Homo sapiens: one gene and its partner. The protein of the gene in region 1 interacts with the protein of each later gene in a biochemical or structural test. Each region holds a gene or a part of one and is shown in the gene's direction. Other genes may lie near its edges.

Evidence for each region.
Region 2: the proteins of MYBL1 (region 1) and NLK form a complex in vitro, tested with the Homo sapiens proteins (one study listed by BioGRID).

What each region holds. Positions count from the first base shown.
Region 1 is NC_000008.11:66,561,617-66,568,467, reverse strand, and holds the end of MYBL1 (myb-related protein A), read left to right. Parts: intron 1-1,202; coding exon of another isoform or gene 1,203-1,214; exon of another isoform or gene 1,215-1,469; intron 1,470-1,475; coding exon 1,476-1,592; intron 1,593-1,679; coding exon 1,680-1,784; intron 1,785-2,224; coding exon 2,225-2,404; intron 2,405-3,642; coding exon 3,643-3,771; 3' UTR 3,772-6,293; downstream 6,294-6,851. UniProt on the Homo sapiens protein: Transcription factor that specifically recognizes the sequence 5'-YAAC[GT]G-3'.
Region 2 is NC_000017.11:28,192,370-28,196,881, forward strand, and holds the end of NLK (serine/threonine-protein kinase NLK), read left to right. Parts: intron 1-2,212; coding exon 2,213-2,267; 3' UTR 2,268-4,012; downstream 4,013-4,512. UniProt on the Homo sapiens protein: Serine/threonine-protein kinase that regulates a number of transcription factors with key roles in cell fate determination. Positive effector of the non-canonical Wnt signaling pathway, acting downstream of WNT5A, MAP3K7/TAK1 and HIPK2.

The sequences.
Region 1 (6,851 bases):
AATTAGCCAGGCGTTGTGGCAGGTTGTGCTAGCTACTCGGTTGATCCCAGCTACTCGGGAGGCTGAGGCAGGAGAATCGGTTGAACCAGAGGGTGGGGGTTGTGGAGGTTGCAGTGAACTGAGATTATGCTACTACACTCCAGCCTGGGTGACAGAGCAAGATTCCATCTCAATAAATAAATAAGTAAATAATAATAATAAGCTCTTTGAGAAGTATACGGAAACACTAACATAATTCCTGTATGTCTCAGTCTAGATGAGAATACTTTTAACATTTGTTTTCATCTTAAAAGTTTTTGTAAGTGCTGTGAAATCTCATTTATATATGAATACCATTCTCTCTAACTTTGCTGGCTGGGGACATAAGCTGCTGGTGTTTTTTTGTTTTTTGTTTTGTTGTTGTTGTTTTTTTTTTTTTTTTGAGACGGAGTCTGGCTCTGTTGCCCAGGCTGGAGTCCAGTGGCGTGATTTCGGCTCACTGCAACTTCTGCCTCCTGGGTTCAAGCAATTCTCATGCCTCAGCCTCCCGGGGTGCACACCACCACCCCCGGCTAATTTTTGTGTTTTTAGTAGAGATGGGGTTTCACCATGTTGGCCAGGATGATCATGATCTCTTGACTTCATGATCCACCCGCCTCAGCCTCCCAAAGTGGGATTACAGGCATGAGCCACCATGCCCAGCAGCTGCTGGTTATTAAGTGCTGCCAGTTCTTTTATTTAGTAGAGGTTTTATTACCTTTTCAAGTATATCTTGGTTATGAAAGGTATAAGTTAGATATAATTTTTAAATTTTTTCTGGGTTATAAGTTGTGCTTACCTATTTGACAGAAAGCTAGATGAATAATATTTTGAGACTATTTCATCACTCAGCTGACACTCAAGTGTCTATCTCTCTGTAACCTACCCTCCCACACTACACACACACACACACACACACACACTCACTCTCTCTGTCTTCTTGGATACTGTGTCAGCTCTTTGCTTAGGCTAGGTATACAAAGATGAAAATGACCTGACCATTGCTCTCAAGTATCTCACAATCTTGGTGGTAACAAACGTGTTAACTAGTAATTACATACTATGTAATAAGTACAATAAAAGTAGAATAAGAGCTAGTGTATTCCCAATATGTTCTATATTTCCTGTTTTTATGTAAAAAAAACTTGAGAAATAACATCTTTCTTTTCTGTTTAATTCTGAAGATCCTGACCTGAAGCAGGAGCTACAGTGGTTTCCCCAAAAGGAAGATTTTTGTTTAGTAGCCTAGAAAGAAGAAATTGCTATTCTTTACTCAGTACTTGCAAATGTATAATATTGTTTTGCCACAACATGAATTAATTTAATTAATGTATCTATAGGGGCTAGGAGAAAATTATGACAATAATGGACAAGTATAAAAGATGGGTTTCCTATATATAGGGAGAAAAAGGAATTGCTATAAATGACTTTTTACAACATTTTAAAAAACAATTTAGTCCCAGCCACTTGCTTTCTTGGAAGAAGATATTCGGGAAGTTTTAAAAGAAGAAACTGGAACAGACCTATTCCTCAAAGAGGAAGATGAACCTGCTTACAAAAGCTGCAAACAAGAGGTAATCTTCTAGTATTATTGTTAATAAAAGTCTTATTGTATCCAAGAGACTTTGCCATAAAGCTTCTACATAAATTACTCATTCTAGAATACCGCTTCTGGGAAGAAAGTCAGAAAATCACTAGTCTTAGATAATTGGGAAAAAGAAGAATCAGGCACTCAACTGTTGACTGAAGACATTTCAGACATGCAGGTTTGTAAAGGATTATTATTGTTGTTATTTTAAATGGTTGCTTTAAGTCCTAGAGGTTCTTATTTCTTACTCATTGTGTAGCCAGTTCATTAGAAATTCATGGAGAATTTTTATCTTAGTATCATTTTGCCTAATTCACAGAGAAACTATTCACTGTAGAGAATATTTTATTTACTTTTTTTTATATTTCTTTTGTTATGAGAGGAGTTAGCTGCCTTATATCTGATGTCAAAAAATCGTAGTTCTCAAGATTTTAAATATCAAAGTTTATCTTTGGTTCATTTCCAAAATAATATTACTACATTACTAGAAATTTCATCAGAGCCAAATGCTTTCTTGGAGGGAAATAAACAGGGCTTCCATTACCACTTACTCAGTAGTCCCTCCATTTGTCTCCATTTTTGAATTAGTTATTTTCCTCTTTCTTTTTTCTCTCTTAGTCAGAAAATAGATTTACTACATCCTTATTAATGATACCATTATTGGAAATACATGACAATAGGTGCAACTTGATTCCTGAAAAACAAGATATAAATTCAACCAACAAAACATATACACTTACTAAAAAGAAACCAAACCCTAACACTTCCAAAGTTGTCAAATTGGAAAAGAATCTTCAGGTATGGATTTATAAATTTCTTTAGTGATTTTTGTTTTTGTTTAGTCAATGATCACTTTGGATTTACTGATCACAAATTATACTTTTTCTTTTAAATTCAAAATTGATTGTAACAGTAACTAAACATTTACCATTATTTTATCACTCACATTTGGGTTTGAGCGACTCATTCATCAGGGCACATATAAACTAAACAATTGAAGCTGTAACCAAAGACTGGTCTGGTGATTTCCTAAGCACTGTATCTTTTTTAAACTAAAGATATATAAATCTACTTCTGGCACCTCTTCTCCTGTAACAAATATGTATAGCCCTAATTGCTATTCTGAAAAAGGGTAAGTGGTTGGAAGCAGTTTCAGCATGATTTTGTTGGTACCATGGTTTCCAGTGAACTTTTTGGCTCAGAAGTTGTAAAACAAAGTCCTTTTTTTTTTCTGTTGGGATACGACCAGTGTGTAACTGCAAATGAAGGTTGGAAAAATTTTTACTGCATTAAGAGTTTACCCCAGAGAATTTGAGAGTTCATTGAGTAGGAAATTTTCTTCTTTATGCCACAGTGACTGCAGCACTAGTATTCCTGATATTGAAGCATACCTTGAAAACGTCTTTGGCAATTACATATGACCACCTTACATCTGTTTTCAGCCACTGCTTTCTAAGAGCCATGTAGCACATTCTCTTAATCCATGTAAAATGATTTGAGTTCCTGGCGTTTAATTAACATAGAACTTTTGGGGAAAGTTATTATATAGAAGATCACATCTATAACATAGTAATCTTTAAAATAAGGGAAGGAAAAAAACATAAGCTTGATTTTTTGTTATGAATATATTTCCTAATTTGTAAATAAAGCATTCTTGGCTCATTTTTTGACATTACATCCTCTCTTTAAATCTTTTGCAAAATTTTGAAGCAATAAAGACTAACATTTATTTCCATGTTAAGACTCATTTGATTTGGGGGGAATTATTGGGGACAAGACTTTTAAACTGCCTCCATAGGCCTGTAAGCAATATAGATAGCTAAAATAATTGACTTTTTAAAAACTTGATAAAAAATATTTCAGTATATATTTTAAAACATTATTATTAAAAAAATACAGTGCCATTGTTAAAACATTTTTATAATTATTGTTTATAAAATATCTAATCAGTTAAAATAACTGACTTTAAGAGTCTAATTGTGATATAGATAGCTATTTTAATAATTTTCATGTCACTATTAATATTTCCTTTCTAGTCAAATTGTGAATGGGAAACAGTGGTTTATGGGAAGACAGAAGACCAACTTATTATGACTGAACAAGCAAGAAGATATCTGAGTACTTACACAGCTACCAGTAGTACTTCAAGAGCTCTCATACTGTAATTGTTATTAAAATTGATGAAATGCCCCACTCCCTTACTGCAGTCTCTACTAAATTAGGTTGCAGTGAAATTTTTCTCAATTAGTTGTTTTTAAAGTTGTAAGATAGCCCTTTTAATACAGCATCTTTTTTCTATTCTATATAGTAGGCAGAAAGCTAGTAAGTCACTTAAGGGGTAGATAGTTTCATAGTTTATTTTTTAAGAGATGAGATTTTTAAAAATTGTTTTTAAAGAACAAGATGGGAAAATAATAGAATGTTCATGGATTTCTAAAAGTAAATTCTCATATATTTTCTTCACAAGATATATGTTGCTACTCTCTTGATGCTGCAGTTTTGTTATAGATAGGTGTATGAGTATATATGATTTCTGAAATTAGTCTATGTATGGAAAGCACACATGATTTTATGAAGTACTTTTGCCCATGTGCTGATTTACTTAGGCTACCATTTACAAAGAAACACATTGAAAAGGAATTTAAAGGAAGGATAGAAAGTTGCACTACTAATTTTTTGTTTTTTTTTTCAGAAGCAGTAAAATTAACTACAGTGTTAAATGTATTTATTTGAGCATAGTACTGAAAACAAAAAGCATTCAAAAAAGAGTTTTTTCTTTATTAGTAAATAGTATTTTCTTAATCTCAGAGGAGCTGAGAGTTTTGTTGAATGTATTGTACAGTATGTAGGAGCAGGAGAACTTTGTAAATTGGAAAGAAGTCTGTTTTTATAATTTATTTTTATTTTTAAAGCTTAAATGTAGATATTTATACGTATACAGGGTGCCTAGAAGCCAATGTTGTTTCCTGTTATTACAGCTAACACAGTAAAGAATAATTTTGACTTTAAGTATGAAACAGTAGTAAGTTATAGCTGCAAAGAATACAATATCTATACTGTATGTCACATCTACCTAAATGTTGCACTATGCCCTTTAAATCATGCTGGTTATAAAGTAGTTCTAAAAATGTACTAAATAATAATTTAATATTTTCTTTTTAAATTATATCGGGGGTGGTCATATACATTAATCTGGTGATTTGTATATGTGTTTGAAATTTTTGCATTTTGTTTAAAAAATAATATGGTACCTTGGTCCCTAAAAACAGTCTGCACTTAGAAGTTTATATTTACTCAGTGTTTCAGAAGTGGAGAACATTATCTTTTATTTATAAAAATATTTTGTCCTTTTTTAAATGTTTTGTGTTTCTCTACAGGTTACAACAGTTGCTTCAGTTGCCTGTTTTAGGTGTTTGCACTTATTTTATTTCTTCTTGAAAGAATTTTTATTTGCTTTTGTGGTAGAGATTATATGTAATTTTTTTTCAGTCATATAATGGTGTGCTGTCAACTTAAACACTGACAGGTAAATAGAATTGTACACTGTAGTTTGAATTATTTATAATTGACACACTCTCTCCCTCTCCACTCCTGAAGTATGCTGCTATAGAAAATAGCAGAATCGGCTTGCTGCTACGAGAGAAGGAAAGAGCGACCACCACTTGCACTGTGTGAAAAGATAAAAAACAAATGATGGCAAGTTCTCAAGTTAACTAAATGGAATCAACCATTACCAGGCAAATTCTTGCAAATACCAAAATACTACTATGCCTTATAAAACAAAATGAAAGCAGGTTAAGATTTTCTGCTCTGTTTGTATGTTAATAGAAATGGAAATACTAAGTATTTTAATGCTTAGCTCTTGAACAGTAGACCTAAAAGGGTTTTAAGCTATTTAAATCTACTTGCTAGTTTTTGCATATTTTATATATATATATATTTATATATATATATAGTGAGAAGTGAAGAAAATGTATGGTACTAAGATTATGCCTTATTGATAAATAGATAAACCAATTTGAATCCTCTTAGCATGTTTAAGTATGTTGATTGCTTTCTAATTAATGAACTTCTCACAGAAATTTCACTTAGTGAAACCAATGATTGTAGCAAACTCATACTGGATCATTTCAGTTACCTTGAACTAATAGCACATAATGGTTTTTTGTTGTTGTTGTTTTTAATGTAGCCCTTACCTGGATATACATAGTCTGCAATCACCAAAGTATAATATCTTGTAAGGCTATATTTTTTAAAGCATATTTTTTCTTGAGCATTAAATTATCCTAAATGGTAATATATTGTGGATAAGTCTGGGCTTATTGGACATAATACATATTTGGGTTGGTACTGGTTGAATCCTTCAGTTAACTGCTTTGTTGCTTTTTGCAAGATTTTTTATCTTAAACATGTCAGGCATCTTAAGTCACCTTTATACTGTTTTGTTCCTCTGAGTTTCTTTCAGTATGTTATACAAATGCCAGACATAACATGTAGCAGCCATACTTGCATGGAAACTGACTACACATACATAATACTGCATTTTATTGTAAGGTTTTCACATTAATACAGCAATTACCCTGACTAAATTGAGTTTTGTGATATATGGAAAACTTCATTGTAAGAGAATCTTGCATACAATGTTGACATATTAACATCCAAAATAAAGCATCTGTGTACAAGCTGACTTGGCATTGCTCATTCACTTGGTTTTGTGCTTTATAAGGACTGATAGAATCCTTAGAGACTTAACATTCTGTTCTTAGGCCTTTTTTCTCATTTAGAACTCTCTTTACGGTGATTTTACCAATAAATACAACATTGCGCCTTTATAGAGCCTCATTTAAAACCAGATTTCCAGCTGTCTTTCAGATACTTTCACATGACACTTCCTGTTGGCGCCTTAAACATATGTTCAAAGCAGATTTCCTCTTTTTCCCAACTTTGACCTGCCCTTTGTTCTGTCACTTAGTGGTATTGCCTTCCCTTCATTTACCCACTGAGTAATCACCCACCTCCACATTGAAGTCAGCTGTGAATTCTCAGCCTGCATATGGCCTCTGTCTCCATTCTATAGAAATGTCAAGAAATTGAGCAGTGGCATAAGGGTGTCATCTGGGAAAGGCACACTGGTCATCCAGGCAGGGCTGTTTGGTATTCTATTACCTCGGTAAATTCATCACCATCTAGATTCTATCTTTAGCCTTGTAGGCTCCGAAGTCTGAGGAAATTAACTCATTAAAAG
Region 2 (4,512 bases), on another chromosome or scaffold:
AAAACTGTAAGCATCTGGGCTGGGCGCGGTAGCTCATGCCTGTAATCCCAGCACTTTGGGAAGCCAAGGCAGACAGATCACCTGAGGTCTGGAGTTCAAGACCAGCCTGACTAACATGGAGAAACCTTGTTTCTTCTAAAAATACAAAATTAGCCAGGCATGGTGGTGCATGCCTGTAACCCCAGCTACTTGGGAGGCTGAGGCAGGAGAATCACTTGAACCCGGGAGGCAGAGGTTGCGGTGAGCCGAGATCGCACCATTGCACTCCAGCCTAGGCAACAAGAGCGAAACTCCATCTCAAAAAAAAAAACAAAAAACTGTAAGCATCACATTTTACACTGGTGCCAGTTCACTGCGGTTGCTTTGGCAATTTTTTCCCCGGATGACCATTGTGCTGCCTCATCACATATATGGCAGTCCTGCTGCAGCATTAGTATGGTGGCCACCTGTCCTGGAGTTAGACGTGGTCATCTCAGTTCCCACTACCATTCTCACTCCCTAGTAATAACTGCAAGCAAGAAAATAATTTTTTTGTGTGTAGGTGGACTGCTGGTGTAGCCTATTTAGAGGAGAAGTCAAAAGGCATATGGTAGAGCTATGAACCTACATTGGAAGTTACCAGGCTTCATTCTCCTTGTCTGTCTGTCCTTTCCTTCTCTTGATTTCTTTTTCCTTAACTCCTTATATATTGATCAGGGTCTAATCGGGAGAAATAAACCACTTCCCTAGAATACAAACGGGGAAAATTCAGTAATAAGAACTGTTAACTAGGAAAGATGATCAACTGCTAAAAGGCATAAAAGAGGATTCTGAAGGCTGCTGAAGTAGCAAATGCAGAAAGCAGCCACTCCCTGTAGACTGAGGGAGAGTAAACAAGAAAGGAATTAAGAATTTAGAAGAGGTTCCTCATGTAAGGACCTCTTTGGAGAGGGTATGGCTGCCACAGGAACTGGAACACACAGCACGAGGGTGGTGCAGAAGAGGAAGTGTGCCAGAAGGTGTGGCCAGAACTGGTCCATCAAAGACTGCCTGCCAGGAGAGTTCGGGTGGACCAAAGCTGAGCCTTCCACATGACCAAAAACAGGCACAACAAACCAAGGAAGGGAGACTGCTTCCTGATGCTACAGCCTTGCAAATGCCCTTCCAGCACCCTCTGTTGACAAAAGCTAACATTAAGCTAGGTGGCAAAGGGGAACCATGAACAGGGTCTGGCTCCAGTATCACAAAGCAGGACAAAGGGTGGATTCGGATATGAGTGGTCACACAGTCTCTATCTTCCCCGCTGCCTTTCTCCTCTCCTTTTTCTCTCTTCCTGCTGCCCTTTCCCTTTAATCATATTAAAGTTGGTTGGATTTGTTGGACCACAGTCAAGATTTTATGCTTAAAATTTGCAAAATCAGGTGACTTTCATTTCTTCCATGTATTTTTCTATTGGAAGAAGGAATTAAGTTGCACTTTTACTTATCTGTGGTTTTAAATTACTTTGTTTTACTATTTTCCCCTAAGAGTCAGTGACCCAGTCAGTTAGGCAGTTTAGCAGCTTAGGTGCAAATGATCCTGGGCCTTGGGGAAACAAGGGGTTACACTTTTCCCTCTCAAGTTTATAATCTAATTAGCAATCTTAGACATAGGAAAAAGCCAATAACAGATCTAGATCACCAATGCTAAATGATTACCTATACTTCTCCATTAATACTTGATAAAAGAATGCTTATAAGGCCCATTCAAAATAGGCCACTGTATTTTGAGAGGCTACTTTTAAATGGATGATTCTACATCCCTTAAGGTTATTTTCCTGATTGATTATTGAAATTATTACTTGTAATACCTACATTTACTTTACACTTTGAAGTAGGCACTGTGGAAAATACTTCACATCTATTATCATTTATTCATCCCAGTATCCTATGAGGTAAACAGCATTATTTCTTTCCAAATGAGAAGAGATTAAGGCACTTGCTCAGGGCCATACAACTAGTAAATGACATGTGGTTTTCAAGCCTACATATTAGCCACTATACCAGATTGCCTCTCCATAGATAACAGGTCCATAAACAAGCAACTTAGAATAAATTCAACTTCAAAGAAACAAATAAAAATCCAGAAGTGGAATTAATTTTTTCAGAGGAAGAGAGGAAAACAGGAAGTAGTGAATTACCCTTTTGTCCATTGTGACATTACAACTAATTTCTCCATCTCTGTTTTCTTCCAGTTCCACTGTTGCTCAGCCATCTGAGATGCCCCCATCTCCTCTGGTGTGGGAGTGATGGTGGAAGATAATGTACTACTGAAGATGTAATGTAGCTTTCCACTGGAGTCTGGGATTTGCAATTCTGGAGGTTAATCATGCTTGTACTGTAATTTTACTAATGAAGTTTTAAATTAACAACCACTACTTGTATGATATGAATAATATTTAGAAATGTTACTAGACTTTTAATCTTGTAAAGTGGTTGTGCTTTTAGAAGAAAAATATTTTACCCAGAGTTGCACATGTTTTATGAATTTAGTGCAGCTGTTATGGCTCACCTCAGAACAAAAGAGAATTGAACCAAATTTGGGAGTTTGGGGTTTTATGTTTTGTTTTTCTTTTCTAAAATGAAGTGAGATTGTTCACACACACACACACACACACACACACACACAAACACAAAGGACAGTCATACATTTTGATATTTGAGCCATTCCTAAAGATTTGGGGTTTTCTAAAACTAAAGAATCTAGGAACCTTGCCTGCGACCAATCATGGAGCCACGTGAGCTGATCGTGGCTGCACCTGGGGGGAGGGTAGGGAGGAGGGGCATGCCACCTAATGATCAAGCCCTATAATTAGCTTCTCATTAGAGCCGTGATGGTGATGTGTGCTGTCTAAAATCCAATGTTGTGGGTAGAGAGAATGAGTTTGTGACTAGGAGAGACTAAACTTTTGTTTTCCTTACCCAGTATAAATATATATATATATATTTAATCTATTTTTATTAGAAGTTTTTCTGCTCTTTCTTACATAAAAGAACCCCAAGCATGCATCTTTCATGTGTGTAAATAATTCATTTCTGGGCTAATTTCAAAAGAATCCCAATATTGCTGTATAGAAAGAGAACTAGCTTGCACATTTTAGGTCTGTGAAATTTTGTGAGACTTTTCCTGCACTGGACAGTAAAAAAATAATAAAAGACAAAAACAAATTTAAAAAAAAATTTAAGCCACAAAAAAAGGCACATAGGGAATTATGTCAAATGTGTTTGTGTCCTTAGGCAAAGCTGTGGGAGTCTTGAAATGTCACAGTAGTAAATAACTTATTACTTTTTGACAAGTTCTTTTTTTCTGTTGGAACACTGAATTCTTCTGTGCATATGTACATATGAATACAAATCGAAGGCCTCTACCTCCTGGAGTTATACAACTTGGCTTGTTTACCTCCACATGCTGATGATGACTATTTTTTTTTTTTGAGTTCAGTGTGGAGACTTGAAACTTGAATGTCCCTTCCAACTTTTATATTAAAAATAAAAAGACAAGAAAATTGAAGATCATTTTTCACCTGTACAAGGAATACTAATGGATCGTCTTAAAATTGGTCTAGGAAAAAACCTTGGTGTGTGTTATGGACAATTAACTGTTAAAGTTATTGTAAGTTATCTGTATTTAGCAGAGTATTTTCAACTTGAGTGATCTGAGCTGAATTTGAAGACTATTAATAAGTTATGTTTGGAAGTTTTAACTTCAATGAAGTAATTATTTGCTGTGAAAGAAACAAACATTGAATTACTAAACAAAGATGGTGCAATATCTTTGTTTTTTTTTTATGAGGCTCCTGAGAATCAACCCAACTGAAGCATTTCAATTCACTTGAATGAGAAACGTGTTTAGTATCAAAAGAGCCCAAGAAGACACTGGTGTGAAAGGTACAATCTCAGAGGTTGGTCAATTACCGTGGCACACTTTCTGGTCACTTTGTACAATGTAGATTTGAAGTACAGTGGTGAAAACATTAAATGTGACATTTGAAAAAGATGTGTCATCTGTTTTATTTCAGTTTCTTTCCTTTGTTTTCTCTTCAGTACAGCTCGTATCCTGACTTTGCAAAGTTTTGAGACACTTCCTATTTATATTTCCACTTTGATCTTTGAGGAAATTGGTTGTTTTTAAAAATCTTCTCAAAAACTTTAGATTGACAAAAACATATTGAAAATTTAGTTAAATCAATATCAAAGATGTGATTTAAATATACACAATAGAGAAGTCTTTTTAGACCTTGGAGTCTCTAATCCAGTGGTTTTCAAACTTTTTTTTCTTTGAAGCAATATCTTGGAGTCCAATATATTAAATACATAAAAGTAGATTGCTCTGTATGAAGCAGACTGGTAAAGGGACTTGACACCTCCCTCCTCTTCACTTCTGCCTCCTGCCTCTAGCAGCCCAAAGGTACTTTCAGCTAAGGAAGAAGTCCCAGCCCAGTGGTGGTGTAATCAAGGCCTGAAACCAGACTGCCTGACTTCAAAATACTTTCCC